2 separate regions of the Homo sapiens genome follow, and region 2 is linked to region 1. Evidence: fine-mapped expression QTL. A gene starts in region 1. The other region holds a variant in brackets. All regions are shown on one strand. Distances are between the middles of the regions. Region 1 holds the start of NRG4 (neuregulin 4). Region 2 has its middle 2.0 kb from the start of TMEM266.

Region 1 (2,925 bases):
TTGGCTAAAAAATAAAATTAACATTACATCAGCATCAAAGGCGTCATCATATATGGTTTTCCACTGAGGGTGGAATGTAACTTTATCACAGCTAAGATTAGTGTCCTTGTTTTAATTGGATTATAGTCAGACATATCTCAACACTTGGCATTTATTTTATCAATAAAGAAAACTCATCTAACCTGAATCATTATTTCTGAATCTACTTTTATTCTGACTTCTATTTCCTTATTATTTGAGCTGATTTCAGATATAGGACAAGCTAGAATTTATCAGGTTATAAAACCAATAAAACACATATATCTAAAATAAAATAGCTTTATGTCACAAAGGAAGGTCTCTCAAAACCAAATATTTCATATTTGAAATATTAATTTCATATTCACATCTCTTCCAATGATGTTGGAAGGGAATAATACAGCCTTGTGTTAATATACATTTTTGATTGTTGTTCTATTGCTATGGACACATATTGACAAAAACATATAAATATATAAGAAATTACCTGTTGGCATCTTAATTTGTAAATAGTTTCATTCTTGGTCAAGAGAGTAGGGTTGAAAAACAGTACCTAAAACGGTTTAAAAAGTAATAATTCAGGGAAAATAGTCTTCTTTTAAGGGCATTATAAAATGTCAAATATTCTAATAGCAATATTCTTAAATGTTGAAAATAAAATAATAAAGACATTTATATACTAGGGACAAATTTTAGTTACAGCATTTTTAGATACCTATTGCATTTCAGTAAAAAATATGAACAAAACTAAAAGATCAATAACGTACTTAATATAAATCATTGCCTAAATAATGTAATTTAATCTTAAATATCTCTCTGCAGAAAAGTCTAATAAGGCTTTTTTTCGTAAACATTGTTAACATAGTAGAGTACTACATGGAATTTTACATGAACGATGAGACAGTAAGTAAAACTGAATGAACTGAACCTTTAAAACTTTTATAAAAGCACTTTTAAGTTTACCATAGATTGCACATTACATTTACCAACCTATGCAAACCTTTCTTCTAAAAAATGTCCAGGGCTGATAGGTGCGGCAAACCACCATGGCACACATGTTATAAACACACTATGTAACAAACCTGCACGTCCTGCACATCTATCCCGGAACTTAAAATTAAATTTAAAAAAGAAAAAAAATGTTAACCCCACACACACACAAAAATGTCTGGCATCTGGCAAAGCAATGTAGCTAATAAGACATTCTTACATATGAAGTTTCCTGCTATAACAGAAACAAAAGAATTCAAACATATATTTGAAGAGGTGAAGCATTTATACTTACATTATGATTACAAGCTCCCAGTTCTGTTCTATAAAGAACACTTCTGACCTAAACAGAAAGACTCTAACAGAAATCTCAATCTACTAACACAGTTGTAATACCAAGGTCTTCTCTCAAAGCCAACAGCTCTTTCTTAGACAAGCAGAGAGGCAGAGAAAGCGAGCAAGCAATCGAGAGAAACACACACGAGCGAGAACAGGCAGGAAGGAGAACATTAAATCTATTTGATTTTTAAAAAGCACTGACTCATACTGTTTCTTTTTTCCAAACAAACAGGACTTACCCTCAATAAAAACTTACATTCACACAAAAAATAAATTTTGTTGGACATGCAGTGTTTCAAAAGTTTTTGAATACCGCAGACAACAGCAGCTGTGACTTGCATTTTATAACATGTCAAAAATCTGATTTATATGGCTGCAGTGTGCAGTGTGGGCGAGGTCACGCCAGACCAAGGTGTGCACAGAGGTCAGGCACTGGCCACGGGAGCCACCCCTTCAATTTACGTGTTCAGAGTTGCAAATGGAGCAGAATTTTATTTAGAAAAGGAGTTGAACTAAGCTGCACTTCCAAATTACTGTCCACGTTTTAAAGGTAAAAACCAAACCACATTCCTTAGACTCCTTACTTATCTTTGCTTGTCTGAATAATTCAAGACGTAGTGTAAGTTTGGGAGAAAAGAAATTTTAATGTGGAGCTAATAGATAAGTGTTTCACAAATTAAAAAAACATTTTTTTAAATTTATGTTTTATGAGGTTTGTGTTACCTTACAAGCCAGATAAAATTTATATAAATAATGACCTGAAGAACTTATAAAGCTAAAAGAAGGTAATAGCTATAATAAAACTTGTAACACCAAGTTCAATTTGAAATGAATAAAATCACTGAACTTGACTAATACCAATGACAGTGTAATGCCTGAATGCTATGGCAAAGTTGTTAAATATACAGTGAGGAAAGTTAAGTTTTAAAAATCATAAACAATTTTAAAATATTGACTAAAACTGTAATTTTGTTTAAATGAATATAGAGTTCTTCATCATATAATTATCTAAAATATGCCAAACATTTAGATGGTTATCTTTTCTAAAACGACAATTCAGACATTATTACTTGACTGATGTAAAGCCCAAACTAATAAGTTTGTTTTGTTGTTTTAAGAAAATATTAAAATAAACTCAAAATCAAATACTCTAAAAACAATCTGTTCATTAGGAGAATGGTGTGAACCCGGGAGGCGGAGCTTGCAGTGAGCTGAGATTGCACCACTGCACTCCAGCCTGGGCAACAGAGTGAGACTCCGTCTCAAAAAAAAAAAAATGTTCATTATTACATTTTTAAAATTATACTTTAAGTTCTGGGATACATGTGCAGAATATGCAGGTTTGTTACATAGGTATACAAGTGCCATGCTGGTTTCCTGCACCCACCAACCTGTCATTTACATTAGGTATTTCTCCTAATGTTATCCCTCCCTTAGCCCCCCACCCCGACAGGCCCTAGTGTGTGATGTTCTCCTCCCTGTGTCCATGTATTCTCATTGTTCAATTTCCACCTATGAGAACATGCGGTGTTTGGTTTTCTGTTCTTGTGTTAGTTTGCTGAGAATGATGGTTTCCAG
Region 2 (2,925 bases), 46 kb after region 1:
AATAAATACCACACAAAGTCACATATATTCCATTTTTCAGGCTTTTACCAACTCAGATTGGCTTTCTACCTGTACATTCCAAATAAGTGAGGTTATATTATAACATTTAGAAGAGCTTTCAAAATATTAACATTTATATCACATTAACAATTTAAGGACTTTGGGCATTATTCAAATTTTCACAAATCACATGGCATCAGATTCACTTGTTCTATTTTCACAAGCAACTATCTCAAGAGAACAAAAGCTTTAACTCTGCTACCAATCTTTTTCAGACATTCACAGGATCAACATCATCTCTAATCTATCCTCCCATAATCTTGCAGCTACATACATGTACAAATTTTCCATTTATGTGATCCTGGTACTCTTGAAAAGGCAGTCTTTTTAACTAAAAGAAAATCTGACTTACCTCAAAAGGTATCTTGGTATGAGAGAGAATGCCAACTACAGCCACGTTAGAAACGAACAGTTATGTCTGGCAAGGAAGTGATATACCAAGCTTAAACCCACAGTTCCACTTCTGCTTTACAGCTCTTATACTTTCCTGTTGCTACTAAGCTCCTTTACTCACAAAATTCCTCTCATTAGTCACCTGCAGTGTACTGAAGCAGCACCTGTACTATTTATAGCTCTAGGATTCCCCCACCCTCTCCTGTCAATAAGAATCACCTGGGGCAGTTAAAAAAAAAATCACAAGTCAACCCCCTGATATTAGATTTCAAGGTGTTTGAAAGGAGGCTCCAGAATCCGATTTTTTTTTCTAATCAGCTGAATTTATGACTCACAGAATCTGATTTTAAGCAAGTGTTCCCAAGTGAGTCTTATAAGCCAGTTAAGTTCAAGAATAATGCTCCAAGTGAAAGTGAGATCTGTGGCAGATCTTCACAGTTCCTCTAGCCTCATCAGCCTCAAGGGCTAATCCTCCTCCGGTGTTAGGCCTCAGGGTATTTGAAAACAAGAGAAGGCCCAGTTTGAAGAATGCAGAATGGCATCTCGTCCACACTTAAGTTTTCAATACCCTAAAAAATTTATCGAAGGGAGATTTTAGTTTGGGGAGGTGCTGTGAAGTAAGACATCACCAGGGGGCAGCATAGAGTTGACAAATTATACATGTTTTGGGATTTTTGACTTCACACTACAACATGAAATGGTTGCACCTACAATTTCCATTAACTCGGATTACTCAGAAAAGGACAAAACCCAGAACACTTAAGACACACGTAAAC[T/G]TTATTAGCATGTAATTTTCAATACAATGGCTATTATATTATAAATACATAATATAAATATTTATAAATATAAATATTTTCTACAATGGCTATTATACTATAAATAGCCATTGTAGAAAAAAATGTTCCCTTGAAGTCGCATGAACCCGAATTCAAAAAAATTTTATTAGGATACAAAGATTCCTGGTAGAAATTTGAAGTGGTCTTCAAATTTCTCTCAGCAAGTTTCAAAATACTTGTCGTACTCTGAGAGTTAATTAGCGTTATAACTGGATGCTTCTCAATAGTTTCAATCAAATCTTAAGTAGAGTTCTACTAAGGTGGAAAATGGAGTGGATAACAATCTGGGCAAGCTATGCCAAAGCTTTTTCTAAAGAAAGTGTACCTAGTTAAAATGCTGTCACTGACTGTCAGAAAACTATAGCTCCCCTCCCGTGCATCCTCCATTAATTTTTCTTAACCCATCTCCACTTTCTCTATTCTAGTCCACATTTCTTCCGTCTAGAAATGTAGAAAAATCCTTTGGCAACCCAGGTAGCTTCCACAAGTATCATCTCCAAGTGTTTCTTCCTCTGAAATTCCACCATTAGAGATTAGAGATGAGTAGGAAATGCTGAAAGGCGAAGGAGGATCTGAAGAAATTTTACATTTTTTTCTCAGTTTGCCAAAAGTAGATACTCCCTGTATAGATATTCCCGTATAATCCAGGGAAGGTAGTCCAAGACCGTGGGGCAATTCCAAGAGGTGGTTTTGAAGTCCTTCAACTCTACCATTTTCATTTTATCCATACTAAAAAAGCTACGGCAGGAAGAAAAGACAAAGGACATTCCTGGGAGGCCAACTGGACCTAATCAAATAAAAACACTTTAGAAGAGGTACAAGAATCAGAAATCAAACCTATCTGCAGAGCCAAAAGCCATTCTGAAACTCCGTGTCCTAGAAACAAGGGTTTCCCATCTTTTCAAATATTTTAAGATAAAAATCGCAACACCCTATAGGAAAATGGCTATATTTTTAGCAAGAATTGGTGGAGAAGACAAACGATAATAAGCTACTATGAATCCAGAAGCTGCTTAAATGGCCGTATTCACAGCAGCCCTTGCAAACATTAATTAGAGTAGTACCCATTATGGGTGAGGACTTTTTTTTTAACCACAGAGAATATCTGTGGGTGCATCCAGATTGCTCAGTGGTTCCGTTTAACCCACCCGGTAACTGGCAATCATGGCCCTAGGACAGGCTTCTCCACCGGGGCGATGCTGCCTCCAAGGGGCGCAATGTTACTTTTTATGCATCAAGCACGGATAACACATACAGCACATAAGCAGGTCGACAGTGTATCTGCGGTACTGGGATTTCACGGGGAAAGGAGATGGGGACGTGTAAAAAGCCTTTTTAAGAGTCAGATAACGAAAAACGGAAAAAGAGGAGAAACACGGTCCTACAAGGGTCCTGAGCTGAGGCCATCAAATGAATGTACTGACAGGTATTTTTCTCCCAGGCAGCCAACTGAGAGTCAAGGCACTCTGACCGTGCTATGACTCCGGCCACACAGAAAGAGGTGTTTTCCCCTCGGTGGCCTCCAAGCGCAGCGGGCACTGCGTGCCATCCGCTCCCTCACCGGGCGCCCCGCGCGGATGAAACGGAGCAACTGGGAAAGAGCTCTGGAAACTGCAAAGCGCTGCGCCAAAGCGAC

The links. PIP is the estimated chance that this variant, and not a neighbour inherited with it, causes the effect.
Region 2: its variant is fine-mapped to the expression of NRG4 in lung (GTEx, PIP 0.97).

What each region holds. Positions count from the first base shown.
Region 1 is chr15:76,010,716-76,013,640 of GRCh38, forward strand. It overlaps NRG4 (neuregulin 4), which reads right to left and starts at 1,709. Exons shown (of 6, transcript NM_138573.4): 1 at 1,604-1,709; 2 at 506-571. The coding sequence starts at 515.
Region 2 is chr15:76,056,542-76,059,466 of GRCh38, forward strand. It overlaps a transcript of NRG4 not described here. Among named protein-coding and RNA genes, the nearest start is that of TMEM266, 2.0 kb to the right of the region's middle. RefSeq lists enhancers at 554-603, 664-713, 904-953 and a silencer at 2,437-2,486. The variant T/G (reference allele first, on the strand shown) is at 1,230.